Regions from separate parts of the Homo sapiens genome. Here regions 2, 3 and 4 are each linked to region 1. The links come from fine-mapping of genetic effects on gene expression. A gene starts in region 1. Each other region holds a variant in brackets. All regions are shown on one strand. Distances are from middle to middle.

The links. PIP is the estimated chance that this variant, and not a neighbour inherited with it, causes the effect.
Region 2: its variant is the best candidate, but not a certain one, in a credible set for the expression of SLC2A5 in prefrontal cortex (GTEx, PIP 0.53).
Region 3: its variant is the best candidate, but not a certain one, in a credible set for the expression of SLC2A5 in whole blood (INTERVAL, PIP 0.62).
Region 4: its variant is the best candidate, but not a certain one, in a credible set for the expression of SLC2A5 in whole blood (TOPMed, PIP 0.81).

What each region holds. Positions count from the first base shown.
Region 1 is chr1:9,065,326-9,073,089 of GRCh38, reverse strand. SLC2A5 (solute carrier family 2 member 5) reads left to right here and starts at 3,455. Exons shown (of 12, transcript NM_003039.3): 1 at 3,455-3,586. The coding sequence starts at 3,554.
Region 2 is chr1:9,118,307-9,126,070 of GRCh38, reverse strand. All of the region lies in intron 1 of GPR157 (G protein-coupled receptor 157), which reads left to right. Among named protein-coding and RNA genes, the nearest start is that of GPR157, 6.9 kb to the left of the region's middle. RefSeq lists enhancers at 3,449-3,949, 3,950-4,450. The variant C/T (reference allele first, on the strand shown) is at 4,673.
Region 3 is chr1:9,036,040-9,043,803 of GRCh38, reverse strand. It overlaps SLC2A5 (solute carrier family 2 member 5), which reads left to right. Exons shown (of 12, transcript NM_003039.3): 5 at 1,867-2,019; 6 at 3,615-3,740; 7 at 3,817-4,004; 8 at 4,142-4,252; 9 at 4,875-4,976; 10 at 5,298-5,373; 11 at 5,780-5,907; 12 at 6,015-7,764. The coding sequence ends at 6,218. Among named protein-coding and RNA genes, the nearest start is that of SLC2A7, 13 kb to the right of the region's middle. RefSeq lists a silencer at 3,608-3,808 and enhancers at 6,020-6,099, 6,540-6,609. The variant T/C (reference allele first, on the strand shown) is at 4,136.
Region 4 is chr1:9,090,390-9,098,153 of GRCh38, reverse strand. It overlaps a transcript of SLC2A5 not described here. Among named protein-coding and RNA genes, the nearest start is that of SLC2A5, 25 kb to the right of the region's middle. The variant GA/A (reference allele first, on the strand shown) is at 4,682.

The DNA of each region.
Region 1 (7,764 bases):
CAGCTTGCTTTGTGGTATGGTGTTAACCCAATATTTTGCCCTGGTTAAATTTTTCTTATATAAAACATTTGCTTTTCATTCTGATTCAGAAAAGTAACTTTTATTTCTGTTTTACTTTTTTTTTTTGGAGACAAGAGTCTCGCTCTGTCACCCAGGCTGAAGTGTAGTAGTGCGATCTCAGCTCACTGCAACTTCCGCCTCTTGGGTTCAAGCGATTCTCCTACTTCAGCCTCCCAAGTAGTTGGAATTACAGGCGCACACCACCACGACCGGCTAATTTTTTTTTTTTTTTTGGCATTTTTAGTAGAAACGGGGTTTCACCATGTTGGCCAGGCTGGTCTCGAACTTCTGACCTCAAGTGATCCACTTGCCCCAGCCTCCCAAAGTGCTGGGTTTACAGGCTACCACGCCTGGCCTAGTTGTGTTTTATTATAACAGTAACAGAAACGCTCCTATTTCCTCTCCCCCATCCTATCACCAAGTGATTGTCAATTTTCCATCCTAAATATCCCTCAAGTGTATCTACTTCTGTCTTCTCCATCCCCATGCTGGTCCAAGTCACATTGTTCTTTCACCTGGGCTACGGCAAAGACCTTCCACTGCTCCTTCTCCCCACTTCCAAATCCAGCGGTCTCTTGTCCCCTCATCAGTTCACCTCTGGACATCCAGATGGAACTTTAATTTTTAATTTTTTTTATTTCTAGGGACAGGGTCTTGCTCTGTCACCTAGGCTGGAGTGCAGTGGCATGATCGAATTCCTGGGCTCAAGCGATCCTCTTGCCTCAGGTTTGCCAGGACCACTCCCCTCCCCCCAGTCCCACCTCACCGCTGCCATCCCCCTCCTCCATCTTTGAGCCACTAGGCTTCTCACAGTCTCCCACCCCGCCCTGCTCGCGGAGCCTGCAGGCCTCGGCCTCATGGCGGCCTGAGGCAGGGGCCTGGAGGCTGGTCCGCCCGCCACGAAGGTTGGGGGGTCCCTGGCCAGAAGCAGGACCCGGGCGAGGCTGAGGGGGACTCTGGCAGAAGCTGAAGGGGACCCGGGTGAGGCTGAGGGGGACTCGGGCAAAGGCGGAGGGGAACCCGGGCTGAGGCTGGGGGGGATCTGGGCTGAGGCAGAGGGGGACCGAGGCTGAGGGGGACCCGGGCTGAGGCAGAGGCCGAGGGGGACCCGGGCTGAGGCAGAGGCCGAGGGGGATCCGGGCTGAGGCAGAGGGGTCCTGGGCAGGGACAGGACCCACCCGGAGCCCGCAGGCCCGCCAGGCAGAGGGACTGGCTGAGCGGCCCGCAGCCTGGCGTCATGACGGCCTCCCGCCACGCCCCCGTCCCCGCGCTCGGCTCCCTCCAGGGCGGAAGCACGGGTCGAGCGTTGGTGACGCCATGGCTGTGCTTGCGACGCCCTGTCACTGGCAGGAACCGGGTACTGCGGCCCGCAGCTCCCGGGATGATCCCCTCTGGGCCTGAGGGCCTGGCTCACTGTCCCCGCTTCCCCGGGCTGGGCCGTCAAGGCGGGGACTGGGAGTGTCCGCGTCCCCCCCAGCGACCCCCGGTTTTAGTTACCCCCTCGCCCAAAGGCAGGGAGAAGTGGAAGATCTGGGCCTAGATAGAAGCAGGTGTCATGCACTTGACATGACTGATGACTACAAACTTTGGACGATTATTTTTGGGGGGAGGATGGGGGACGGAGATGAGTCTCGCTCTGTCGCCCAGGCTGGAGTGCAGTGGTGTGATCTAGGTGCGCTGCAACCTCCGCCTCCCGGGTTCCAGCTATTCTCCTGCCTCAGCCTCCCAAGTAGCTGGGATTACAGGCGTCTGCCACCATGCCTGGCTAATTTTTGTATTTTCGGTAAAGACAGGGTTTCACCATGTTGGTCAGACTGGTCTCGAACTCCTGACCTCAGGTGATCCACCCACCTTGGCTTCCCCAGGTGCTGGGATTACAGGCGTGAGCCACCGCGCCCGGCCGGATTCTTCTTTGTGTTGGATTGCACACCTGTACCCGTCTCCTCACTCCCCCATCGTTGATTTCCTCTCCCCACCCTACCCCTGCAATTAAAGTGCATTTTCTTTGGAAACTTTTTCTAGATCTTTGAAATAATTGGAAACCTCTGGTCTTGCTATGCGTTAGTCACAAGTCAGTGTGCTAGGACAGTGATACGCAGAAGAAAAAGACAGGCAGTAGCTGGTGAAAGGGAATGCTGAGTTCTCCCTTGTGAATAGGGACCCCCCCGACCCCCCAACACACACACACACACAGACGGCCACGCTGCTAGGCTTCTCACAGTCTCCCACCCTGAGCAACCCTGGGGATTTGCTGCTAATGCAAGGAACAGTGCCTAACACAGGCTCCCAGTCTCTGCTTGTTTAAAGATGCATGAGATTCAGAATCAATCACTAAAGTAACTGGATTTACGCCACAGCAAATAGAACTGGGAGTATGTTCTGTAAAGATGAAAACCTGTGGGACTTGTGAGACTTTGGATTTTGGCCACTTGCGCTGGTGTGCCCTGTGGCAGCTGAATGAGTGCCAAACATGGGGGGCTGACAGTGGCCTGGCCTTGAGATGGCCGGACCCGGACCAGCAGGTGTGACTCATTTTCCCTGCCCTGCCTGGAAAGGGGTTCGAGGTATTTACCACCTTCCCAGTAGTGATGAATACACAGAAAGTAACATCCCTAGGTCATTCTGAGCTCCTTAAAATGGAAAATAAGAGGCCGGACACGATGGCTCACGCCTGTAATCCCAGCACTTTGGGAGGCCAAGGAGGGTGGATCACTTGAGGTCAGGAGTTCGAGACCAGCCTGGCCAACATGGCAAAACCCCGTGTCTACTAAAAATATAAAAATTAGCCGAGCGTGGTAGTGCACGCCTGTAATCCCAGCTACTCAGGAGGTGGAAGCAGGAGAATCGCTTGAACTCGGGAGGCGGAGGTTGTAGTGAGCTGAGATCATGCCACTGCACTCCAGCCTGGGACAAGAGCGAAACTCCGTCTCAAAAAAAAAAAAAAAAAAAAAAAAAAACAGAAAATGAGAAACTTTCCCCAAACAGTATTACACGGTGACTTGGGCAAAACTGACTCTCCACCAAGAGACACTTGACTGTAGTTTTCCTGGCAGGGAGAGCATCTTTGAGGTCTCTAGTGGCCCAATCTGTTGCCCTCAGATTACCTGGTGTCATGTAGGGTGGAGGACAGCTGTTGTTTGCCATGCGTTCCTGACAGAAATAACCCTTCCAGTCATTCACCATGAGCCTGACTGGTAGAGACTTTAGCAATGGGGAAATACCGTAGACTGTTCCATCAGGACAATGCTGGGCCTGCAGTCCCCAGGGGGCACCCACTTACTTAGCCAAACCCCAGACGTTTCATTTAAAAGCAGAAGTGAAAGGAAGACCAGGTTCCTGAAAGGGTTATTCTGACTTAATCTGGCTATAAAAATGCTATTGGCTGTTATTTGGCATGGCCAAAGTGCACCCAGAATGTCTTCTCTCTCCATTCAGTGCACGCGTTACTTTGGCTAAAAGGAGGTGAGCGGCACTCTGCCCTTCCAGAGCAAGCATGGAGCAACAGGATCAGAGCATGAAGGAAGGGGTGAGTGTGTTGCTCAGGGAAAGGGGCCAAGAGCAGGCTTGGCTGCCAGGGCCTGTGCAGCCTTCCTGGAGAGTCGCTGGGGGGCTCCTGGTGTTGCAGAGGGAACTCTGTGTTGGGAGGGATTATGGTGGGGAGAGGGGGAAAGTCTTGTCCAGCAGGTGGTCTTTTATAGGGAGGAGAGAGGTTTAGAGACAAGTGCTCTGTGGAAATCATTCTACTGGAACAGCCTTTAACAGCAGGATCTGTAACTGAATGGAAGAGACCCAAAGGATTCATTTGTCCCAACTTGAACCAAACATGTTAGCTGCAAAATCCTTCTATGGTTGGTGAGATGTTTCGCTCTGCTTTCGTTTTGCTTTTGGCTTCAGGGCAGTTAATTTTTTCAGCAAGTAACATAGCTGAGCTGCATGAAAGCAAGATAAACTCAGAAAAGGCGTTGCTTGATTTGAATTTAGTTCAGATCTGTCACGTAGGTTTCCTGCCTTTTAGATCCTGAGGCTCCCTTGTTTTAGAGAGGAAAGATTTTCATGGACTCCTGCAACGTAATTGCAGTTTACTTTCTAGATTCCCTTGATTGAGGAAAATGCATAATGTCAGAAAAGTAACACTGACTTATTAACACTTTATAAGAATTTGCATTTATTCATCACAATAGCATCTGCTTATATTTGGAGTGGAGGAAGGATAGTGCACATTTTTGCAAAACAGCATTTGTTCAGGCATGGATGTGAGACCCTCACCATAGGCAGACTGGAAACATGCTCTGTAGCACATAGATTAAGAGTGGGTCTTGGGAGGCTGAGGTGGGTGGATCACCTGAGGTCAGCAGTTCGAGACCAGCCTGGCCAACATGGTGAAACCCCATCTCTACTAAAAATACAAAAATTAGCCAGGCGTGGTGGCAGGTGCCTGTAATCCCAGCTACTCAGGAGGCTGAGGCAGGAGAATCACTTGAACCTGGGAAACAGAGGCTGCAATGAGCTGAGATCACGCCATTGCACTCCAGCCTGGTCAACAAGAGCGAAACTTCATCTCAAAAAAAAAAAAAAAAAAAGAGTGGGCCTGGGAAGTAGAAGCCCCCAGGATTCATTCCTGCTCCATCCTATTCTAGCTGTGGGACTTGGGTAAGTTCTTTAACTCTTCAGTGCCTCAGTTTTCTCATTTGTAAAATGGGAGTAATAACCATACCGCCTCATAGGGTGCTGGAGCAATTAAATGAGATAATGCATGTAAAGTACCTGGCACAGAGTGAGTTCCCCGTAAATGTTACTACTTTTCTTTCTCTCTCTCTCGCTTTTTTTTTTTTTTTTTTTTGACACAGAGTCTTGCTCTGTCACCCAGGCTGAAGTACAGTGGTGCGATCAAGGTTCACTGCAACCTCCACCTTCTGGGCTCAAGCGATCCTCCCACCTCAGCCTCCCAAGTAGCTGGGATTACAGGCATGCACCACCACACCCGGCTAATTTTTGTATTTTTAGTAGAGATGGGGTTTCACCATGTTGGCCAGGCTGGTCTAGAACTCCTGACCTCAGGTGATCCGCCCGCCTCGGCCTCCCAAAGTGCTGGGGTTACAGGTGTGAGCCACCGCGCCCGGCCATCGTAAATGTTACTACTTTTCAATCATTCTTTAGGCTGGTTTCTCCACCTCCGCGTGATTTCCATTTGGCACTGGCTAACGCTTCGTTGTAGGGGCTGTCTTGTGTGTTATAAGATGTTTAGCCGCGTCCCTGGCTCTACCTTCTAGACGCAGTAGCTCCCTCCCCCAGGAGTGACAACCGATGTCCCCGAGAGGGCAGAATCCACTCCCAGCCCTCAACTGAGAGGCACTGCTTTGGAGTCTACTCAGCCCCTTCGCTTGGGTCATCTTGTTTGTCTTACAACTAAGAAAGTGTTAGACAAATCAAGTGTCATCACCTCCATTTTATAGAAAAGAAACGGAGGTGATGAGGACTTAGGTGTTTGGGGTCCAGGGAGGTCCTCCGCTGTCCAGAGAAAGGCACAACTGCCACGTTCCCCACGTCCACCAAGTCCAGCTGCAGAAAGGAATGGAAACACCCCCACGTGGCAGGCCCTGAAACTGAGTAACACATTGCGAAAGGAAATGATTCAGATGGCCACATGCGAGAGGCATGGGCTGACCCAGCTGCCTGCTGCCTCAGCCCTCCAGGGAAGGAAGCCTCCTCTGGGCCAGAGGGATGAAGGTGGGGATGGGCTTCCCGCTCCTGAGAGCAGCCTGCCCCTTGGGGAGAAAGCTGGGGCGTGCTGGGCTTCCCAAAACACTCTGAAGGAAGCGATCCCAATGGTCTGTAAGAATCCGGGAAATCATTAAGTGCAGCCGAGAGGGGAGGTAGGAGCCAAGGAGAAATGCGGGGGCAGGCGAAGGCTACAGAGGCTGCGCGGTCCGGGGAGGAGGGCGTCTGGCAGTATGGAGCCAGCTGCCTGCCCCTCAGTGGTTGTGTGGCAGTGGCCTCACTGGCCTTTTCTCTTCTTTTTCTTTCTTTTTCCTTTTTTTTTTTTTTTAATTTTGAGACAGGGTCTTACTCTGTTGGCCAGGCCAGAGTGCAATGGTGGGATCATAGCTCACCGCGGCCTTGAAGTCCGGGGCTCCAGCAATCCTCCCACCTCAGCCTCCCGAGTAGCTGGGACTACAGGCATGTAGCACCACCCTTGGCTAATTTTTAAATATTTTGAAGAGACGGGGTCTCACTATACCCAGGCTGGTCTTGGGCTACTGGGCTCAAGTGTGCCTTCTGCCTCAGCCTCCCAAAGTGCTTGGATTGTAGGCCTGAGCCACTGCACTCAGCCCTGCTTTTCTCCTATGTAGAGGGCAAACACTGACATCTATCAGATGTGCACCAAGGACTTTCTGCCAGGAAGAAAAGACTGTTGGTCTGAAAGAAAAAAAAATAAAATGGATTAGGAAAAGAAAAAGGTACAACAAGGTATTTTACAACTACATAAGAATTGAGGGCCAGGTGCAGTGGCTCTGGCCTATAATCCCATCAGTTTGGGAGGCCGAGGCAAGCGGATTGCTTGAGCCCACAAGTTTGGGACCAGCCTGGGCAACATGGCGAAACTTGGTCTCTACAAAGTGTACAAAAATTAGCTGGGCATGGGGACCGTGCCTATAGTCCCAGCTGCTCTAGAGGCTGAGGTGGGAGGATCGCCTGAGCCTGGGAGGTAGAGTTTGCAGTGAGCAGAGATAGTGCCACTGCGCTCCAGCCTGCGTGACTCCAGCCAGAGTGAGATTCTGTCTCAAAAAAAAAACAAAGGATTGTTGAATAAAGTTCCCCACCTCAATAAAAAGATGCCGAAGTGCTTTGGAAAATAAAGACACATTTTTGTGGAGTGGCTCCACCAGCAACTAGTTGAGTATCCTAGAGCAACTGACACCCCTCTGTGCTCTCCGGGTCCTCACTGATATTCATTTGTAATTAATGGATTAATTAACCCATTTGTAACACCTACTACAGACCAGGCATGGTCCTAAGTGTTCTATACCAGTGAACTCATTTATTCCTGTGGTGGTATCATTATCCTCAAAAAAAAATTTTTTTTTTGAGGCAGGGTCTGGCTCTATCACCCAGGCAGGAGTACAGTGGCACAATCACGGCTCATTGCAGCCTCCTGGGCTCAAGAGATACTCCTGCCTTGTTTTTAAATTTTTTCGTAGAGACGAGGTCTCACTATGTTGCCCAGGCTGGTCTCAAACTCCTGGGCTCAAGCCATCCTCCTGCCTCGGCCTCCCAAAGTGCTGGGATTATAGGCATGGACCACCAGGCCAGGCCCATTATCCCCATTCTAAAGGTGAAGGAACTGAGAAGCTCAGGGAGTTGCCCAAGGCCACACAGCCCAGCAGAGCCAGGCTTCGAGCCCACACTCCTGGGCTCCAGAAACTGTGCTCCAAACCACCGCAGCGGCTGACGATGCTCATCTCTCCCTGCCCCTCCCACTACCTGTTTGTGAAACTGAGTTCAACAGTGTGATAAAGTGACATAGCTTGAAGTACTGATCCTCCATGAGCGCTAACTACTCCGGGGTGTTTGCATTCTGACTGCAGATTCCTAACAAGGAAAAGCTTTGAACTGAGAGAATGTCTCTCTGACAACAGAAACTTCAGGATGGATTTCTAAGGGAGATGGTTTGGGCTTCCTTCCCAGTGACCTTGAATCGTACCC
Region 2 (7,764 bases), 53 kb before region 1:
CTCGCTTGAACCTGGGAAGTGGAGGTTGCAGTGAGCCACGATCGCGCCACTGCACTCCAGCCTGGGTGATAGAGCAAGTCTCCATATCAAAAAAAAAAAAAAAGGCAGAATACAAACATGATAAATGCGAGTTTCACTGGCATTTTTCTACAGTATTATTGATGGTGTGAATTGAAATAGTCTTTGTAGAAAGTATTTGGTTCATACCCCTTGATCCAATAATCCTATTTACCAAAGCCTAGTCTAATGAGATAATCTAAAATATGTACAAAGCTGTATGTACGAAGGTGTTTGTGAGGCACTTATGGTGAGAATTTGGAAGTGACCTCAAGGTCCAACAGTGGGGGAACAGGAAGTTAAGAGTCTACCCTCCCCTTCTGAAATGGTATGCAGCTCTTTGATACTGGTTTTGAATTCTGTAAGTCATTTTTTTAAATGATATGATTCAATGCGAAGTGACAGAAACCATCGCTAACACTGATTACAGCCACATAAAGGCAGGAGGTTAGAGAGAATCCTGCACGTGCACAAGTTCCCAGGAGAGCACCTGCGTGGCCCCCTTTACAGAGAGAGGAGGGCAGTTTAGACCTCATCCTCAGGAAATCACATTTCAGCATGAGCTGTGTCTGGCCCCTGATGTTTGCAGAGTGCTGTTCCATTCATTAGCTCACTAATCACCAATAACCCAACAGGGCCAGGAGTGGTAGCTCACACCTGTAATCCCAGCACTTTGGGAGGCTGAGGCAGGAGGATCACTTCAGCCCAGGAGGTTGAGGCTGCAGTGAGCCGAGACCACCACTGCATTCCAGCCGGAGTGACAGAGTGAGACCTGTCTCAAAAAAAAAGAAAAAGAAAAAAAAAGTAACCCAACAGAATGGATGGGTGGGGTGATTACCCTCATAGCAGATGTGATGGCCCAGGGCTACATAGCTAGTAAGGTATTGTGGGATCTGGCCAGCAGCCGGCAATGCAATGGGGCTCTCTCTTTGTTCCCAGGCAGATCGGCAGGTCAAGAAATAATAGACACACACAAGATAGTGAAAGCTGGGTCCAACAGGGGGGTCGCCCGCGGTGCCAACAATGCACTGGATATACCAGCATTTATTATTAAGTTTAGTGAGGGCGGGGGTAGGTTAGTGAGGGATTTAGGGTCATTTGATTATGAGGTGAGACGGTCACATGGTGATGAAGTAATTCTTTAACATAACATCTGTATGCAGAAGTACAGTATACAGGGATAAGAATTTACAATATAGTGTGTGCATCAGTAATTTCTAACAGAGCCTTAAAACAGAAATACAGTCTTTCCATAACCTATGATTAGCAAGATATTAATCAGCAGTAACAGTTGCAGCAAAAGCTGGTTACAAACAATCCATAGCAACGGGAGGTGAAGCTAGACAACCAGTTAGACCAGAAATTCTCAGAAGGGAGTATGCCATAACCCTAAAGAGGCCTAGAAGAGCCGTGGGGTGTTTATAGGTGAGGGCGTTTATAGCCCTATGTTGTCCATATGGACAGGCACACCCCATGAGTCCGTTTATAGGCTCTCCACAAGGGTCGCATTCCATTCCCAGAGCTATGAACATCTGCTTTTCTGGGATAGGAATCTTGGTGATGTGAAACCTCCCTGACTGCACGTCCATTCATAGGCTCTCTGCAGGGGGAAGCACATCACGCGCTGTTGGCTCATTCTGGCAGTCCAACCTGGCATTGTCTTTACACAATCCTGCATGCAATTTTGTATTTACAATAATCAGGAGCATTTCATCTTTTATGCCATACCAATAGTTTCAGGGAGTCTCCCTTCAGTAAAGGAGAGGCTCAGAGTTAGAATCTACTTCTGACCCAGTCCAAGACTCCTTTTAGGAGTCTATGTTGTCTTTTGGCTGTAACAGGTTTTAAAAACTGAGATACAATTTCAACAATAATTTATTTTTAGGTTGGGCACAGTGGCTCACGCCAGTAGTCCCAGCAGTTTGGGAGGCTGAGGTGGATGGATTACTTGAGCCCAGGAGTTTGAGACCAGCCTGGGCAACATGGCAAAATCCTGTCTCTACAAAAAATTTAAAAAATTAGCCGAGTGTGGTGGTGTGCGGCTGCAGTCCCAGCTCCTCAGGAGGCTGAGATGAGAGGATCACTTAAGCCCAGGAGGCAGAGGTTGCAGTGAGCTGAGATTGTGCCATTGTACTCCAGCCTGGGTGACAGAGCAAGACCCTATCTCAAAACAATTAAAATTAAATATTTGTATATATATTTAATATTATATATATATAATATTAAATATATATTTAATATTAAATATATATAATATTAAATATATAATATTAAATATATATTTAAAATTATATATAAATACATATTTAAAATTAAATATATATTAAATATATATTTAATATTAAATATATATTTAATATATATTTAATATTAATGTATATTTAAAATATATTTAATTTTAAATATATATTAAATATACATTAATATTAAATATATATTTAAAATATATTTAAATATATATTTAAATTAGATATATTTAAATATATATTTAAATTAAATATATATTTTGAATATATAATTTATATATTTTTAAAATATATATTTAAATTAAATATATATTTTAATATGTATTTAAATTAAATATATATATTTTAATATGTATTTAAATTAAATATATATTTAAATTAAATATATATATTTAATTTAAATATATATTTAAATTAAATATATATATTTAAATTAAATATATATATTTTAATATATATTTAAATTAAATATATATTAATTTAAATATATATTTAAATATATATATTTAAATATATATTTAAATTAATATATATTTAAATATATATTTTAATAAATATATATATAAATTTTATTTATATATATATATATATATTTTTTTTTTTTCCCACCCAAGACAGTTTCACTCTTGTTGCCCAGGCTGGGGTACAATGGTGCGATCTCTCGGCTCACTGCAACCTCCACCTCCCGTGTTCAAGTGACTCTCCTGCCTCAGCCTTCCAAGTAGCTGGGATGACAGGCATGCGCCACCATGCCTGGCTAATTTGGTATTTTTAGTAGAGATGGGGTTTCACCGTGTTGCTCAGGCTGATCTCAAACTCCTGACCTCAAGTGATCCACCCACCTCAGCCTCCCAAAGTGCTGGGATTACAGGTGTGAGCCACCGCAGCTGGCCTTTATTGAGATTTTTGTCCGTGGACTAACAGTGTCCCTGATAGCAAAGGAAAATCTTGGCTTGTATGTTGACTTAATTTTCATATATCTTTATTCTCCTTCCATCTGAAACAGTTCTCCCACCTTTCTTGGTGTTTTATGATACTGACATTTTTGAAGAGTACAGTCCCGGTATTTTATAGAAAGCCTCTCAATTTGGGTTTGTCTGGTGCTTCCTCATAAGTGGGTTCAGGTTGTGCATGTTTGGCAGGATATCCCAGAAACATGTTTTTCTCATTGCTTTCTACCTGGTGGCCAGCAACTTGGACATATTCCCTTACTGGTGATGTTAACTCTCATCACTGGGCTAAGGTGATATCTGCCAAGTTCCTGCACTGCAAGTTAACTCTTTTCCCTTTTGTAGTTAAGAAGTGTCTTGCTGAGAGACAACGGTGGCTCGAAAGCCTATCACGTCTCCAGCTTTCACCCAAGCGTTTCGTGTCCACTGATTCTGACAGCATTTTGAATTTTTTGGTGGCAGTTGCTTTTTTAAGGTTGTGTGAGATACTCAATGTTCAGGGGAAGTCCCTGTGTTTAAGAAGTCCCTTTCTACTCTGTCTTAGCTGGTGAGGCGGCTCCCACAGACGTCCTTGTCTTTGACTTTCATGTGGTGTGCCTGAGTGGCTGTGTGTTTACCACGCCCACCTGAGGGAGGCCAGAGCTGCTGTGGAGGGGGTCATTTCCCCACCTCCCACATAAGGGGACCTGCCTTTCCAAGAGTGGCGCAGCCCTTCCTCCCCTCACGGTGGTGGGCGCCAGCGTGATGCCAGACCAGGGTCAGCAGGGGTGAGGTGACCACCCCCTCCACCAGGACCTCCATGGGGCCAGGCATCAGCTGTATGGCCTGTGAGCATAGGGGGGCTGCTAAAGGGTCGGGACAGCTCATTTGGGGGTCAGAAGGAAGCGTCCTGGCCGAGCCGGTTCATCTCGGGAATCTCTGAGTTTCTTCTGGCCCCGCTGAGCTGGGGGCAGGTGTGGGTATGACTCCAGCAGGGTCTAGCCCCCGTGCCTCTCACACACACGTTCATCCACCCTCTAGGGTTACAGAGGAAGCAAGAGTCTGTGACCCCCCATGTTTGCCATAAAAACCCTGCTCTGGGGGCAGTGGGAAGTCCCAACGTAGCAAAAAGGGGAAACCTGGGCCTGGAGCTGGAAGGTTGTCAGAGTTCTCTAATTTGTTTTTTGTTTGTTTGTTTTGAGATGGAGTCTAGCTCTGTCACCCAGGCTGGAGTGAAGTGGCGCAATCTCGGCTCACTGCAGCTTCCACTTCCTGGGTTCAAGCCATTCTCCTGCCTCAGCCTCCCATGTAGCTGGGAATACAGGCGTACACCACCACGTCTGGCTAATTTTTTTGTATTTTTAGTAGAGACGGTGTTTTACCCTGTTGGCCAGGCTGGTCTCAAACTCCTGACCTCAAATGATCCACCTGCCTCGGCCT[C/T]CCTAAGTTCTGGGATTACAGGTATGAGCCACCACACCTGGCCTGTTTTGTTTTGTTTTGTTTTTTTGAGACAGAGTCTGGCTCTGTCACCCAGGCTGGAGTGCAGTGGTGTGATCTCTACTCAGTACAGCCTCTATCTCCCAGGTTCAAGCGATTCTCCTGCCTCAGCCTCCCAAGTAGCTGGGATCACAGGCGTGCGCCACCACTCCCGGCTAATTTTGTATTTTTAGTAAAGACGGGATTTTACCATGTTGGCCAGGCTGGTCTCGAACTCCTGACCTCATGTGATCCAGCCACCTCGCCCTCCCAAAGTGCTGGGATTACAGGCGTGAGCCACCGCACCTGGCCTGAGTTCTCTAATTTGAAACGAGCTCACCGTGGCACTGCAAGGACAAGCCAGTGGCAGAGCTGGCCCGTCTCCCCAGGCAGTGGCATCTGAATGAGGGATGGATGCAGTGGCCACATGAATAGTACCCCATGTCGGCCACTACTCCTGAAAATATCAATCATTGAACTGGTTTCGTTTATTTCCCCATAAAAGTTTTCTGAGGTGACTGGTGAAGGTGGCAGCGCTGTGTCCCTGTGTGCAGCAGGAAGCTCATGGCAGAGCGCTGAGCACCAGCAACTTGGCAGGAGGTGTGAGAACTCAGGCTGCCCATCCCTGAGCTGAGGGCTACAGACGGTGGCACTAGGGCATGAGTGTGCATCTGCGAGTTCCTTTAGACATTCCTCTCCCCTTCTGCAGTTAAAGCTGCAGAGTGACCTCGTGGTAGCCTGGCCTAGGGGCTGACTCCCTGAACTTCTCCCAAGTCCTGACCCTTCTGCCGCTGGAGCTGGACAATAAGTGTCCATTGTTCCCAGGGAAGAAACCTCCAGGCAGCCTCTCACCAGGCCTCACTCCCTACAGCTGGGCTTCCCCCAGCCCTGCTCTGTCCTGAGGTTTTTAAATTGGCATATTGTTGCACAAGAGTTTGGTTCTCAAAGCGTTTTCTGAGTTATGTTAACATCCCCAGGTCTCATGGTACCTACACCAGGCATTGTGTTTGGCCCAGAGAAGGGACCTGCTTGTTTTCCTCCTGGCAGGTGCCAGCCCCCAGAGATCTGTAGGAAGGATGAAGTTTGGGGTGGGGAAAAGGTACAGGAATCCCAGGGTGGGGGCAGGTGATTGAGCAGACTCTGCCTTGAGCCCCCTTCAGTCTAACCTCTGACCCCTTCCTGGCAGCAGGGATGGCATCCTAAGGGTCTTTGAAAACCAGTGGGCTGCTTTTCAATATAACTGTCCATTTGTGTGTGAAGTGGAGGTGTGTCTCCCTGTCTGCAGGTGCCCCCACCCTGACTCTGGTGGGGACAGGTTCCAGGAACCACACAACAGAAGATCCCCGGTTGGGCAGCGCTGGGAACTCCCAAGGACCCGCTCTGAAGGGCAGGGAAACCGAGAGCATTGCTGTCCTGGGGACAAGTGGCCTGCCTGTGGTCATCTGACCGACACCACGACACCACGCAGGGGAATTCAGGTCTCGCAGATGGTTTATTCACTGCTTGGCTAATCCCCGGCAGTACTTCCACTTCCTTTCTCTGGAGGACACTTAAAAGGTGTTGAGTTCCAAAAAGGGCTAAGCTCCTGACAAGTATGAATGGCTTTTTGTCATTTTCTCCTCCATGAGCTGGTGGAGGGTCCCGGCCCAGCTTTGCCAATCTGGGCATTGTGGGGGTAGGGAGTTTCCAAGTCATCCCTGACCTCTGAGATTGGGGGCCCTAGGAGCTGGGATAGTACCGCCTGCCAGGACACATGTCTCTCCCGCCTAGTCTGTAGAAAGCCTCAGGCTGCCCTAACAAAGTACCACAGCCTGGGGGCTTAGACAACAGAAATTTATTTTCTCACAGTTTTGGAGGCTGAAGTGCAAGGTCCAGGTGAGGGCAGGACTGGTTCTTCCTGAGGCCTCTCTCCTTGACATGTATATGGCCATCTTCTCCCTGCGTCTTCACTTGATCTTCCCTTTGTAAAGATCTGTGTGCTCATCACTTCTTGTTTTTGTTGTTGTTTGTTTTTTTGAAGACAGAGTCTTGGCCGGTCATTGTGGTTCACGTCTGTAATCCCAGCACTTTGGGAGGCCGAGGTGGGCGGATCACCTGAGGTCAGGAGTTCAAGACCAGTCTGGCCAACATGGTGAAACCCCGTCTCTACTAAAAATACAAAAATTAGCTGGGTGTAATGGTGGATGCCTGTGATCCCAGCTATTTGGGAGGCTGAGGCAGAAGAATCGCTTGAACCTGGGAGGCGGAGGTTTGCCATGAGCCAAGATCACGCCAGTGCACTCCAGCCTGGGAGACACAGTGAGATTCCATCTCAAAAAAAAAAAAAAAAAAAGGCAGGGTCTCACTCTCACCCAGGCTAGAGTGCAGTGGCACAGTCACGGCTCACTGCAGCCTCAACCTCCTGGGTTCAAGCGGTTCTCCCGCCTCAGCCTCCTGGGTAGCTGGGACTTCAGGTGTGTGCCACCACGCCTGGCTAATTTATGTATTTTTTTGTAGAGACAGGGTCTCACTTTGTTGCCCAGGCTGGTCTCAAACTCTCCTGGGTTCAAGTGATCCTTTGGCCTCCCAGAGTGCTGGGATTACAGGTGTGAGCCACCATGCCCAGCCTTTCCTCTTAAGTTATGACCACAGAGGTTGTTAGGTTAGGTTCCACTCTGATGACTGCATTTTAACTTAATCACCTCTTGAAAGACCCTATCTCTCAAATACACTCACATTCTGAGGTTCTGGGGATTAGGACTTCAACAGATGAAATTTGTAGGGGACACAATTGAACCCTTAACGGCCTCTGAGTGGGAAGGAAGCCGACTTGGAGTCTGGCTTTCATTTCTAGGCAAATACAAGTTGGAACTGGGGCCCAGGTACCTCTGGGAGAAGCTTGTGGTGCCCCTGCCAATCAGAGTTACACACGAGGTGGCTGTCCCGGGCTTCCTCCGTCCAGGCAGGCTCAGCTTGGCCTCCTCCCAGCCTCAGAGTCACAGGTTTAGACAGGAGGGGCCTTATGGGTCACCTGCTCTAACCCACATCCCCACCTTGCACCCCCACCCAGCACCTGT
Region 3 (7,764 bases), 29 kb after region 1:
GTTGCAGTGAGCTGAGATCGCACCACTGCACTCCAGCCTGGGCGACAAGAGCGAAACTCGCATCTCGAAAAAAAAAAAAAGCCACTTTGCTCTGATTCTCGTATCAGAACTGGCTGGCTGGGAGGTCCTAGTGGAGTCATTTTAAAGACAAAAATAGAGATTGCTTTCCACCAACGTACAGGTAACCCCATCTCTTCACAAACCTCCTGAGGTTTGACCCTTTATTAATATCCTTCACCAAGATGCTCTTGCTGCTAAGTGGCTCTTGTTAAGTGGTGAGGACACAGCCTCCCACTTCAGCTCCCAGGAGGCCTTCCTTTCCTCTGCAGCCCTTTGCCCTGGGCCTGTGAGGTGTTGCTCCCTCTTCCCACCTAGACATGCTAAGAGCTGCTTTAAAGACTGCCCCTCTTTGCTCTGCAAATGAGGAAGAATCGATATTAATGAACTGTGATGTCTCTTTTCAAATACTGAGCAGAGACATCTGTGGGTAGAATTGCCAAACAGGAAAACATGGCCTCAGGTACCCTCCTATCTCAGTTCTATCAAATACCCCGCCATCAACAGCAGCTCCAACCTCTGCTCACTCCAAACTCTGTTCCTGAGAGCCTCCCTTCAGAGACCCACGTCCCTGAGCCTCCATTTGACTCAGGATTTGGTACCTGATACTTGGACTAGTGAAACTTCCTCTCCATCCCCAGCCTCTGGATGTGCTTTTAGGAGAATTAAATAGGGCAATATATGTGAAAATACTTTGGAAGCTGCAAAATTAAATTCTGCCTATGTTTTTTTAATTGACATCAGGCAACACGTCATTCTATAAAATAGAGTAAGTTTTCCCTCCACCAGATTCAAGTATGATGGGAATATTTACAAGTTTAAATACTGGGGATTCAGAAGTAGTCCAGGCATTACAGAAATCCCAGAAATGCAGATATTCCGTAATATGTGTTGACATTTTAAATGCTTATAGAGACATATAACTTGTTCTTAAAGGTGTATGAAACTATCTCTGCATTGGTTTATTTACTGTTCCTATAAGGTAAAGCTGGGGGCTAGGGGTCCTGGGCCATACACACATACACACACATACACACATGCCATATATATACATACACATACACATGCCCTATACACACACACACACACACCCAGGCCACACACACACCCACACACACACATATATATACACATACACACACACACACACACAGAGGCCATATATATATATATGTACACACACATGCCATATATATATACACACACACACACACACCAGGCCATGTCCATATACACATACACACACACACACAGAGGCCATACACACACAGACATACACACCATATGTAAATACACACAGGCCATATATATCATGCGCGCGCACACACACACACACATATACATATTTTTAGTGGAAACGGTTCCACTATGTTGCCCAGGCTGGTCTCAAACTCCTGACCCCAAGTAATCTATCCTCCCCACTTAGCCTCCCCAAGTGCTGAAATTACAGGCACGAGCCATCACACCCAGCTGCCTTGCCTTTTATGAAACAGACCCTCCTCAAAAAGCAGAAACGTGAGTGGGTCTAGACTCAGGCCAGGGAGCGGGAAGGCCGTAGATCCAGCTGGCCAGTGTCCCCAGATGATATGGGCCAAAGCAAGGGCCCCTGTGCATGAGCTCCTTTGATCTGTTTCTCTTTCCTTAAAGTATAAAGGGCTAAGAATTAAAAGAGGTGTTTGCTTTCTCCTTTGCAGTTTTGAGAGAGTTCTGGCCCAAATAATGTTATTGCTAAGAATAGTATACTTGAAGACAGCTTGTCCCTGCCAGACTAATTTTTTCTGATGGTGTTTCTATTTCACCTCCTCCCAGGTGTATCTTCCAACGTGGTCCCCATGTACTTAGGGGAGCTGGCCCCTAAAAACCTGCGGGGGGCTCTCGGGGTGGTGCCCCAGCTCTTCATCACTGTTGGCATCCTTGTGGCCCAGATCTTTGGTCTTCGGAATCTCCTTGCAAACGTAGATGGTGAGTTCAGGACATCTCGGGAGCACCCCCACCCCTTCACCACTACCCTTGGCCCCCTCCTTGTGTTCCAAAGCCACCACCACAGGACAGGACTTTCTGCAGACTGGTCTCTTCTAACAGGCTGGATGTCCTTGGGGGGCCCATCCTGTCCCGAGCCAACATAGCAGGCCATGGACAAAGGCGCGATAAGGGACTGGCCAGCGTTTACTATCTAGTCCCTCTTAGGAGATGGATGAGGTGGCTTTGAGTGATGGGCTTCCCTGCCTGCTCAGCAGCTGTCCATATGGAGGCCCGTGGCATAGCAATGACAGCCACCAGTGTGCCAGGCTCTGTGCTTGGGGCGGACCCAGCATCAGTTCATAGGACCCTCCCAGCAACGCTGCTGCCTGGGACTCAGTGATTATCCCATTTTGCAGACCAGAAAGAGAAGTACCAGGAGTGAGGGTGGCCTGGCCCCATGGGGGAGGTGGTGAGGACATCCCAGACCCTGCCTCCACCTTCCCCAAGACAGCCTGGGGCCTGGCATGCGGCAGGTGCACAGACACCTGTAACCGGGGTTGTTTTTGCACGACTTTCCCTTTAAACTATCATCAGTCATCCCGTCAGCCAAAACATAAGCCAGTTCCCGCCAGGGTTCTACACACCGTCTGCAAGTCAGTCAAGTGGATCATCAAGCTCTGTGCTGCTTAGACACTCTCTGTAGAAAGTGCTTACCGTGAGCCAAGTGCCAAGTCTTTTTTAGTAACTCATGTATTCCTCAGAACAGCCCTATTAAGCCTGTACCAGTATCATACCCATTTTGCAGGTGCATCACAGGTACAGAGAGATTGGAAGACTGGTCCAAGGTCTCATGAGGATGCAGACCCAGCGGCACAGACCTAGGTCCCTGTTTAAGTACCACATGCTCCTGCCTCTCCTTCACTCCTGCATGTGTTGGGGACACTTACGCCAAGGCGCCGCGTTCTCATTAGGAGCTGGGACCAGAAGTGAATAAGCCAGGTTCCTGTCTCAGGGAGCTCCATAGCAGGACTCAGAACCACACACGGCCCTCTAGGCATTTGTGAAGCTCTGTGCTTCATTTTTTTGCTTTGCCTCTAGTTTTGCCTTTGCAGTACCAATGCAGCCAGCCCATGTGTCCCCTCTATGTGGAATGTTAACGATATTCCCACTGTTTCTGGTGTCCTTTCTGTAATCAGAGCTGCCGTGACCATTCCAGTTCAGGCATCCTGGTGGCCTGGCTTCTCTGGGCATAGAGCTGGGAGTGGGCAGTTGGGTCAGGCCGGGTATGCCCAGCTCCTCCAGCCCCTGCAAGACTGTCCTCTGAAGGACACGGGGACGTTCTCACCAGCACATGGTATTACCGGCCTCGTCGGTGTGGTCTGTCTGATGGGCGCAGGGGTGCGTCGCTGCTGATCCCTGCTGCAGGTGTTTCCCGAGTGTCCACCGTCGGGAGTTGCTGTTCTTAGGGCTGGGAAAGCTGTGCCCTCCTGGAGCCTGCACCCCACTCAGGATGACGGGGCTGGGGCCGGCTCTGCAGAGGGCGCCTTCGGGGTGGTGGGGAGGCCGCTGGTGCCAGCTCGCTGCCTTCCTCCCAGGCTGGCCGATCCTGCTGGGGCTGACCGGGGTCCCCGCGGCGCTGCAGCTCCTTCTGCTGCCCTTCTTCCCCGAGAGCCCCAGGTACCTGCTGATTCAGAAGAAAGACGAAGCGGCCGCCAAGAAAGGTAACGAGGGCTCTGGCGGGGGCGGCCTCCAGGTTCTGCTCCCCAGCCCTGGTCCGACGGTGCCGCTTCTCCCCAGCCCTACAGACGCTGCGCGGCTGGGACTCTGTGGACAGGGAGGTGGCCGAGATCCGGCAGGAGGATGAGGCAGAGAAGGCCGCGGGCTTCATCTCCGTGCTGAAGCTGTTCCGGATGCGCTCGCTGCGCTGGCAGCTGCTGTCCATCATCGTCCTCATGGGCGGCCAGCAGCTGTCGGGCGTCAACGCTGTATGGGCCGGGCTGCGGCTCGGGAGCTGGGGAGGGCTCGGGGGGCGCGGGGCGCAGGTCCTGGGGCGCCGGGCGTGGGTCCTGGCGCCGAGGCCGCCTCCTCCGGGCAGCCGCCCAGCCCCGCGCTTGCC[T/C]TGCAGATCTACTACTACGCGGACCAGATCTACCTGAGCGCCGGCGTGCCGGAGGAGCACGTGCAGTACGTGACGGCCGGCACCGGGGCCGTGAACGTGGTCATGACCTTCTGCGCCGTGAGTGTCCTGGGAGCTGCCCACAGCCTCCACCCAAGGCCCCTCGGGCCCCACGCCCCAGCCTCGGCGCCGCCAAAAGGGCAGCCCGTGGCCCCAAAACGTGGAGGACCAGCCGCTACTACAGAAACTCTGTGTGGGAGGTGGCCCCGCACCAGCCCCTCACACTTGGGGCTGCCGAGCCGCACCGGGCCCGGGGCCACCACCTGACCGGGATGTAGGCGTGCCTGGACCAGGCAGCGCCCACTGCTGGGTGGCTCCGAGCCCGGGCTACCCGGAGTGAGGCTCGGCCACCTCGGGATGGGAGCAGGCTCCGTGGGGGCAGCGTCTCCGGTGCATGCAGACATCTGGCCTCCCGAGGGCAGGAATCCTGAGGCTCAGGGTTGTGGGATTAGGAGGCCCTAGAGCTGAGTCTCAAGGGTGGGCAGCTGGGGTCCCGCATCACAGCCACAGCCGACTTCCCGCTGGCTGCCCAAGGGCATGTCTTGCACATGTGAATGTGAGTGTGCGTGCACATGGGTGGGCACCCGGTCCGCCCAGCTCTCCTCACAGCTGCCCCATTGGAGGGGGCTGGAGGGAGGTGAAGCTGGGCCTCTCCCGCCTGAGCCCTGCCACCCTCCTGTAGGTGTTCGTGGTGGAGCTCCTGGGTCGGAGGCTGCTGCTGCTGCTGGGCTTCTCCATCTGCCTCATAGCCTGCTGCGTGCTCACTGCAGCTCTGGCACTGCAGGTGAGGACAGGCCAGGGTCCCAGGAGCCCGGAGCTGCACCAGGAAGACCAGTGCCCCTCCCATCCTGCGCCTCCACCTGCCTTAAAATAAAAGGGGTCACAATGAGCTGTTTTAGCAAATACAACTGGCCAGACATCTGGGGACCGTGTGTCCTGCCAGCTCATAGCCCACGTTCAGCTGATTTCCCAGTGGCTCATCGAGGTGGCACTGCTGGGGGAGGAGCCAGGTGCCATCCTCCACCCACCAGGGCAGGTTGGCCGCCCCCTGGGGTCCCGTCCTAGCTTGTCTGCTCCAGGTGAACCAACTGCTTTCTCTCCACAGGACACAGTGTCCTGGATGCCATACATCAGCATCGTCTGTGTCATCTCCTACGTCATAGGACATGCCCTCGGGCCCAGTACGTACCCAAAGCTGGCCTCAGGGTGTCACAACCCCCCCTGGTCCCAGAAGCTCCGGGCTGGAGCTCCTTAGAGATACCAGGGATGGCCAATGCAGCCTGGAAATGGCATCTCTTCCCCCGTCCACCGCAAGGGGGTGGGTGGCACATAATGAGAGCGAAATGGTAAAATGGTGGTGTGGGTGGGAACACACAGACTGTGCAGGCAGCAGAGTGGGCCTAACGGGTGGTTGCTGGCCTGCCATCCCTGTACACTGCCGTTTGCCCCCTACGTGCTGCCCCACATGCCCAAGAGTCCTGGAGACGCCTCTGTCCTGGGGCCAGCTACCTGGTGGGTCTGCATGGCCAGGCCTGGGATGCTCGGGCCCGCTCTGCCTTCAGGGAGGCTGCTCTCCTCCCCCTACAGGTCCCATACCCGCGCTGCTCATCACTGAGATCTTCCTGCAGTCCTCTCGGCCATCTGCCTTCATGGTGGGGGGCAGTGTGCACTGGCTCTCCAACTTCACCGTGGGCTTGATCTTCCCGTTCATCCAGGTGAGTGGGGCCCGGGGCCCACGCTCACCACCAGATCCCCATGCAGTACAGTGCGAGCCCCTGGGCAAACCACGTCCCACACGTGTCACCTGCCCCTCTTCCCGCAGGAGGGCCTCGGCCCGTACAGCTTCATTGTCTTCGCCGTGATCTGCCTCCTCACCACCATCTACATCTTCTTGATTGTCCCGGAGACCAAGGCCAAGACGTTCATAGAGATCAACCAGATTTTCACCAAGATGAATAAGGTGTCTGAAGTGTACCCGGAAAAGGAGGAACTGAAAGAGCTTCCACCTGTCACTTCGGAACAGTGACTCTGGAGAGGAAGCCAGTGGAGCTGGTCTGCCAGGGGCTTCCCACTTTGGCTTATTTTTCTGACTTCTAGCTGTCTGTGAATATCCAGAAATAAAACAACTCTGATGTGGAATGCAGTCCTCATCTCCAGCCTCCCCACCCCAGTGGGAACTGTGCAAAGGGCTGCCTTGCTGTTCTTGAAGCTGGGCTGTCTCTCTCCATGTTGGCCTGTCACCAGACCCGAGTCAATTAAACAGCTGGTCCTCCACTTTGCTGGTTCAGCCTTCGTGTGGCTCCTGGTAACGTGGCTCCACCTTGATGGGTCAACCTTTGTGTGGCTCCTGGTAACATAACAACAACAGTTACTATAGTGGTGAGATGGAAGGAATCAAATTTTGCCAGAGAAACTAACTTGGTGGCCCCGACAGGTCTTCCGGGGCCATGGGCATTTGTTTAGAGCCAAATTCATCCTCTTACCAGATCCTTTTCCAGAAATACCTGTCTAGGAAGGTGTGATGTCAGAAACAATGACATCCAGAAAGCTGAGGAACAGGTTCCTGTGGAGACACTGAGTCAGAATTCTTCATCCTAAATTATTTTGTTAGTGGAAAATGGAATTGCTTCTGTGTAGTCAATAAAATGAACCTGATCACTTTTCAACAAGACGTGCTGCTGTTCTTTGAGCAAGTAGAAGGCAGGAGGAAGTTCCCTGCTCATTCAGGCAGTGTTTTTTTTGTTTTTATTTTTGCTTTTTTTTTTTTTTTTAAGACGGAGTCTCGCTCTGTCACCCAGGCTGGAGTGCAGTGGTGCGATCTCAGCTCACTGCAAACTCCACCTCCCGGGTTCACACCATTCTCCTGCCTCAGCCTCCTGAGTAGCTGGGACTACAGGCGCCTGCCACCACGCCCGGCTAACTTTTTTGTATTTTTAGTAGAGACTGGGTTTCACTGTGTTGGCCAGGATAGTCTCAATCTCCTGACCTCATGATCCGCCCACCTAGGCCCCTCAAAGTGCTGGGATTACAGGTGTGAGCCACTGCGCCCGGCCACTTCAGGCAGTTTGACTGCACGAGTGTCAGTTCCTTGAGGGCAGGGGCTTGGTCAGTTTTGTTTATGCCTGAATCCCCAGCATCTCGAAGAGGGCCTCTGGAGGCTGAGGTGGGAGGATTGCTTAAGCCTGGGAAGTAGAGGTTGCAGTGAGCTGAAATTGCACCCTATACTCCAGCCTGGGCAACACAGTGAGATCCCATCTCAAAAAAAATTTTTTTAATTGGGCATGGTGACACGCCTTTGGGGTCCCAGCTATTTGGGAGGCTGAAATGGGAGGATCGCTTGAGCCTGGGAGGTCAAGGCTGCCCTGAGTCATGATTGCATCACTGCACACCAGCCTGCATGACAGAATGAGACCTTGTCTCAAATAAATAAATACATGTAAGATTGAGGAAGCTTCCAAATGTCCTCACATATGTAATGAAATCTTGAGGAGTCTTAAAATCTTGAGACTGTGGTGGGGGAGGAAGGGAAAAGGAACAGGGTCTTGATATGGTTTGGCTGTGTCCCCACCCAA
Region 4 (7,764 bases), 25 kb before region 1:
GAGTCAGTTCCTGGGTGAGGGCCACAAGATGAGATGGGCCAGTTTATCGATTTGGTGCCAGCTGATCCATCAAGTGCAGGGCCTGCAAAATATCTCAGGCACTGACCTTAGGTTTTACAATAGTGATGTTATGCCTAGGAGCAATTTGGGGAGGGTCAGAATCTTGAATCCTCAGCTGCATGACTGCTAAACCATACTTTCTAATCTTTTGGCTAACAAGAAGGGGATCTACCTTGAGAAAAGGGCTGCTATCTTCTTTTTTCTAAACTATAAACTAAGTTCCTCCCCAGATTAGTTCAGCCCATGCCCAGGAATGAACAAGAACAGCTTGGAGGTCAGAAGGAAGATGGAGTTGGTTAGGTCAGATCTCTTTCACCGTCTCAGTCATAATTTTGCAGTGGCAGTTTCACTAGCAGGGTCTCAGAGTAGGAGAGAACAACATTGGGGTATTTATTCTTTTTTTTTTTTTTTTTTTTTGAGACGGAGTCTTGCTCTGTCACCCAGGCTGGAGTACAGTGGCACGATCTCGGCTCATCGCGATCTCCAACTCCCAGGTTCAAGCAATTCTCCTGCCTCAGCCTCCCTAGCAGCTGGGAGTACAGGCATGCGCCACCACACCTGGCTAATTTAATTTTTGTATTTTTAGTAGAGACAGGGTTTAGCCATGTTGGCCAGGCTGGTCTTGAACTCCTGACCTTGTGATCCACCTGCCTCTGCCTCCCAAAATGCTGGGATTACAGGCGTGAACCACCACGCCTAGTCCATATTTTTGAAGATCAAAACATATAGTTTCAGATGAGTCTTTCAGCCTTCTTGGGATTAGCAAGTCGTGATGTAATCCTTTCACACATGTGAGCACAGCATGATGAGGATTTGCTGGTGGCTAGTTGAATGAGTTTTGAGTCTAAGCTATCATTGGATGCTTTCTATTGAAGAGCTGATGAATCTTTCCAGGAAGTTCCTGGAGTGAACCATAAAGTTATTTGCAGCAGTTGTCTTGCAGGACAAGAATCTCCTGGGCATAGTGAAGTGATATTGATGAAGGCAGCCGTGTGTTTATCAAGTCATCTTACAGTAGACAAGCTGAGGGGATGGCTTTGATTCTCCAAGGAAACGAGAAGCAGGTGGGTCCCGACGACCAGGTTTGTGAACGACGAGGCTCTGGAAAGAGAGAGACTGAGTTCCAACTATGGCTCCATTGTTTATTATACTTGATCTTGGCCACAAGGCCGAGAAGTGGACTCCATCTTTTATTTATTTATTATTATTATTTTTTTTGGAGACGGAGTCTTGCTCTGTTGCCCAGGATGGAGTGCAATGGTGTGATCTTGGCCTACTGCAACCTTCACCTTCTGGGTTCAAGCGATTCTCCTGCCCCAGCCTTCCATGTAACTGAGACTACAGGCACATGCTACCATGCCCAGCTAATTTTTGTATTTTTAGTAGAGATGGGGTTTTGCCATGTTGGCCAGGCTGGTCTTGAACTCCTGACCTCAGGTGATCCACCTGCCTCAGCCTCCCAAAGTGCTAGGATTACAGGCATGAGCTGCTGTACCTGGCCCATTATTTATCCTTGTATTACTCTGAGAAAATGTTGACCTCACTCAGCCACAGGTTCATCTAAAATGGGGTGATATTGAGGCTTAAATGAAATCTAATGCTTCTAAAGCTGCCTTTGCAAAAATTATGACAGTGAGAGAAATCCAACATTGTTGATTCTGTCTTGCTTCTAAGCTCCAGGCTGTCCTTGGTCATTCCTGAGTATGGGCCAAGCTAACTTTGGGAGAAATTTAGTTTAGAGTTTAACCTTAAAGCAAGGATGATAATAGCCCTTCTCAAAACTAAACCACCTTTGTAAAACTAATGAAAGTCCACAAGGTTAGGATTATGAGAGGGGCCTGAATTCTGCTAAGATGTAGGCATAGGTAAATGACTACCAGCCATTGTTCCAGAGGTCACAAGACTTATAACCTCCCCAATTACTCCCGTAAGTAACATCACTATTGTAGAACCTAAGATTTGCTTTTTGAGATGTCTCAGACTTGTATTTCTGATGATGGCTAACTCTACCTGGACTCATGACTCAACCCATCCTGTGGCCCCACCCAGAGGAGGACTCAGCACTGTAAGACTTAAAGAAACAAGAAAGAAACACAAAATGTGGCTTGACAGTTAAGGACAGGTTTATTTTAGAGAAAACAAACCTGAGAGGGGCTTCCGGCTGAGTTAGGTCAGAGAGCCCTTCTCTCTGACAGACTAAGGATATTTAAGGGTTTTTTGGAAGGTGGGTGAGCTTATTGTAGGTTCAGAATGTTTCTATGTGAGGGAAAATTTATTGCGGGGTTAGAATGTCTCTGGTCAGAGGGGAGGCTGTCTTGGGGTTGGCATGTTTCTGGTCAGAGAGGGGTTTATCTTAGCATTGGAATGTTTCCAGTTATGCTAATATTGGCCATTAGGCTGATGTTCTGGGGCTGGATTTAGGCGGTTTTTCATCCATCAACGGGAACGTAGGATGGCGGTGTTTGTTCAAGATGGCAATGTTCCTGCTCTGTCAATCCAGTCCCTATAGTTATAAAAAGGATGAGGGGCGGCGTGTTCTTTCTGGCTACTTCCTGCTGAGGGCTGGGGGGCAGAGGGCGGAGAGTTCTTTGGTTTCGGATTAATTACAGGAGTAACTCCATTGTAGATGTTTTTGGGTAGTTGGTTGTCAGATGGCCATGATCCTGTTGGTTAAAAAGCTTTGAAAATGGTTCATTAAGCAGGGTAAGAACATTAGTCCTAGGCATATTATTAGGAGAGGGCCCAGGAATGGGATGACCCATGTTAGGATTTTGTGTTTAAACCAAGAATTTACTTGGTTGTCTTGGTATTCTCTTAGCTTTTTAGTCCTTTCTTTAAGTTTTTTTAGCAGCATCTCTTACTAGGCCCTATTGGTTGAGACAGAAGCAACATTCTTCACCCAGTGAGAGGCAGAGGCTCCAGTTTTCAGCCGTTATAAGATTTAGCCCTTGTCTATTTTGGAGGACTACTTCAGCCAAGGAGTCTAATTGGTCTTGGACTCATATAAGGCTTTGGGCCATATCTTCTAATGAATCCTGCAGGTCTGTTGACAGAGCTTTAAAGTATGTTAAGGAGGTGGGTAATCCTCCTGCTCCCAACCCAGTCCCAGAGGTTATACCTAAGGTGGCCATTAAAGGAATGACTTGGATGGCCCTCCTTTTTCTAACATACTGGACGGATGGGATGGATAAAGGCTGATTAGGAGGAACTAAGCCAATGGTGGGAGACAGAAAAACTAGGGTACAGGTTCCAGTCCAGTTGGTGGGGAGAAAAAGATATGTGTTGGTGCCACACAAAAAGAATAAGGCTTTGTCGTAAATATAGGCAGAGATATGGAAAGAAAATAAGTGAATTAAAGATGGGATATTTTTCCTTTCCTGTGGTTCATTACTCCAGGTGGACAAGGAGGAGGCCAAGGAGACACACCTACTATAGTAGAGATATAGGAGGAGTATAGGAGGAGGGTTTTTTGTTTTTTCAGACAGAGTTTCCCTCTTGTTGCCCAGACTGGAGGGCAATGGCGCGATCTCGGCTCACCGCAACCTCTGCCTCCTGGGTTCAAGCGATTCTCCTGTCTCAGCCTCCAGAGTAGCTGGGATTACAGGCACATGCCATCACGCCCGGCTAATTTTGTATTTTAGTAGAGACGGGGTTTCTCCATGTTGGTCAGACTGGTCTTGAACTCCCAATCTCAGGTGATCCGCCCACCTCAGCCTCCCAAAGTGCTGGGAATACAGGCGTGAGCCACCGTGCCCATCTGGAGGAGTTTTTTTTACACATCTAATGTGGTCAGATGTTGCGCCACTGATACTGAGCCACGGAAAAATGTGGGCACTAGGGGAAGCAGAGGTTAGGCCAGGGGGAGGGGCAGTAAAAGGAGCCGTTGCAGGAATGCTCCGTTCGCTTCAGGCAATACTTGGTAGTCAACCGGGTGAGTGTGATGGTCAGAGGGGTGCTTAACAATGATAGTGTGGCTGCATTAGTTAGAAGTTAAGAACCCTACAGGGAAACTTCCCCCAGAGGCTGAAAAGCAAATTGAGGCTTGTTGTAAAAGGGGCGTGTGTTTAGTTATGGGCCCTTCAATGGGAGGGCCTTGGGGCTTAAGGTGTTCTAGGGAGTTGTAATCGGTTTGAAATAATTTGTTGGCCTGATCTGCCCTGGAAATGGGATAATTGCCGACCAGCATGTCAGCTTTTTCCAAAAACGAAGCTCCTTTTTGGAGTTGATAGATTAGGGTTATGTTTCCTGTTAAAAGGTCATGAAGGGGTGCAGGAAGGGCTGTGTAAGCTGAGGAAGACAGCGGTAAGCACATCCAGGTCTCCGAAAAAAAGGAACAGTTAGCTTGCCACAAGAGAGATTGTGTAAGGTTTATAGAGCGTTCTAGTTTGAGCAGTAAGGAGTGGTTGTATTGGTGAGGTTGATGTGATTAGGGAATTTATATTGAAAGAAACAAGCAAAAAGAGAAAAAAGTTATTTGGGTAAGAGTAAAGTCCTGGAAAGCTCCTTGAAGCCATAGGTCCCATAGAATAGTGAGGAGCTGATCAGGATGTACAGTGGGAGTTTCATAAGCATACCACTGATGGTCTGTAGTAAGGTTGGTTAGGAAGTGATGAAAGTTTGG[GA/A]GACAAAGAGACATAAGCGGCTTATGTGCACTCCTCCTCCTTTTCCTCCAGGATTTGGGTGAGGCGAAGGGAAGTTGGTCCTGTGGAGATGTAACAGAAGGCTGAAGGGGTTTTAGATTTGGTTGTTTGGGTATGTGGTGAAGGGAAGTCTGTTTTCTTGAGAGAAAAATGATGAAACCAGCTGGGGAGTCCCTGGAGTTTTGCTGCTGTGGGTGTAGTAACGATGATCTGGTAAGGTCCCTTCCATTTAGGTGTGAGGTGGGGATTGGGGGTAGGGCTGAGATCTTTTACTAGAACCCAGTCTCCTGGCTGTAGGAAGGGATTAAAGGAGTTGGCGATGGGTTGTGGCAAGTATTTGTCGGCGTATTCCCAAATGAAATGGCGGATGGTATGCAGAAGAGGGGAAACGAGAGGGGTTTGTAGAGGTGGGGCTTGACCCTGAGGTGCAGCAAAAGGGGCGAGTGGTCTCCTATACATGAGTACAAAGGGTCTGAGCATTAGAGGCTTACGTGGGAGCGCCCAAATTTTTGGAAGGGCTAAAGGCAAAAGGGTAACCCAGTCTTTATGTGTCTGGAGTGAGTACCTGGTGAGGGTGTTTTTTAAAATGCCGTTCATTTTCTCAACCTTTCCTGAAGACTGAGGTTGATAGGGGATGCATAGCTTCCAGGTGATTTGTAGGGCTCCTGCAAGTGTTTGAGTAATTTGAGAAATGGATTCAGGACCATTATCAGATTGAAAAGAAAGAGGCACCCTGAACCTGGGGATGATTTCTGTTATTAATTTGGAGGCGACAGTAGAAGCTCGTTTGTTTGTTGTGGGAAAGGCCTCAACCCATCCCGAAAAGGTATCAACCAGAACTAAAAGAAATTGAACCCTTTTTACTGGGGGCATATGGGTAAAATCAATTTGCCAATCCTGTTTTGGAAGGTGTCCTCTGGCTTGGTGGGTTGGGAAAGAAGGGGGTATTGGAGTGGGGTGAAGCTTTTTGGCAAATAGAGCATTGATGGGAAATGGCTTTTAACTCTTCCTTTATATCTGGGGTTAAGTGTATATGGAAACTTAAGAAATGGTGTAGAGGGAAATGGCTAGTGTGGAAGAGGTTGTGAATGTCCCGTAGAAGAGTTGTTTATTCAGGGTCAGGTAGGACTAATTTGTTTTGTATGAACCAGTATGTAGGGTTTGAATTGTGCCCCCACTGTGGTTAGTTGTTGTGTTTGGTGTTCTGGATAAAAAGAGGGGATATGTTGTATGAGGGGAAATAGATATTGGGGAATTGGGTGATTGGTTGAGGCATGTTTTACCCAAGTCAGCCTCATTGTTCCCTAAAGAAATGTGGCTTTTGTCCGATTGATGTACGTTGCAATGGATAACTGCAACCTTTTCTGGAAGTAGAACTGCCGTTAATAGATGATGGATGGGTTTTTCATTAATGATAGGGGTTCCCTGAGCCGTGAGATAGCCCCACTCACTCCAAATTTGAGCACTGGAATGAATAATGTTATAGGCATATTTAGAATCGGTGTATATATTAAAGTGTGTGTGTTTTTGCTAGAGCTAGTGCTCTTATTAGGGCAACTAGTTCTGCTTGTCGGGAGGGTGTGCCCAAAGGCAAGGGAGCAGCCTCTGTGACTTTTCTAGGTGGGAGAAAGTGGATATTATCATGATACCCTCCAATGATGGCATATCCTGCTTTGAGGGGAGGGTTTTTTGATGCGCTCCCATCTATAAACCAATCTGGGACTCCTTTTATGTGAGTGGAAGTAAGGTGGTAAAACATGGTGAGAGAACTTTCAATTAGATTAGAGCATGAGTGTTGGTCAGGGTTTAAAATTGGCATTGAAGGTAAGAGTGGTAGGATTAACAGGGGGCATCATGAAGAGAGATAGAGGGTTGAGAGAGTTGAATATAGGGCTTGCACATGAGAGGATGAGATGGAGATGAGCACCTTATGGCTGACCATATCTTGTAGACTGTGAGAAGGAAATACTTGAAGAGGTTCATAGAACGTGAGCTTTTGTGTGTAATTATTGAAGCTGTGGCCAAAAATTTTAAGCAAAGAGGCCAGCTTTTATAAACGGGGTCCAGTTGTTTGGAAAAATATGCCACTGGTTGGAGGGAGTTTCCCATGGGTTGGGCTAGAAGTCTAAGGGCCTGATTATGAGAACTATGTAAATATAGATGAAAAGGTCTTAGCGGATTTGGAAGGCCTAAAGCGGGGTCCTGTAATAAGGCATGTTTTAGGTGCAAGAAAGCATGATAGAAGGTCTGGGATGGGAGTAAGTAGTTGGTCAAGATTTCCTTTAGTGTGTTAATAAAGGAGTTTAGCAATAATGGCAAAATTTGCTATCCATATTCAGAAATAGCCCACTAATCCGAGGAAGGAAAGTAAGTCCCTTCTTATTTTAGGAAATGGGATTTGTTGAACACGTTGCTTTTGTGCTGACAGAATATCCTGGATATTCGGAGTTATGATTAATCCTAGGTATGAAACTTTCGGAGATGTTAATTGGGCCTTTCTTTTGGATTCCTAGTACCCATTCAGCCAAAAAATTTAAAAGCTTGGTGGTGTGTTGAATACAATATTTTAGGGAATGGCTGCAAAGGAGTAAATTGTCCACATATTGAAGCAAAATGCTAGGTTGTAGAGGTAGTTGGGAGAGGTCTAATTGAAGTGCCTGACAGAAATAGTGAGGGCTGTCCCTAAACCCCTGGGGGAGGACAGTCAGGTGAGTTGTTGGGAGCAGCCTGTGTCAGGATCAGTCCAAGTGAGAGCAAAAAGATTTTGAGAGGAGGTATGTAGAGGGATAGTAAAAAAGGCATCTTTAAGGCTTATTACAGAGAAGTTGCTAGTGTTGGGAGGAATTCATGACAGGAGGTTATAGGGGTTGGGGACAACAGGATAAACAGGAACAAAAGCGGAGTTGATTTGTCGCAAATCCTGATCCAGTCTATAGGAGCCATCCTGTTTTTTAATTGGGAGAATAGGATTATTGTGGGAAGAATGGGTGGGGATTAAAATATTGGCAGCCAAAAGTTGAGAGATGATGGGCTTGAGTCCCCGTAATCCATTCAGGATTGAGGG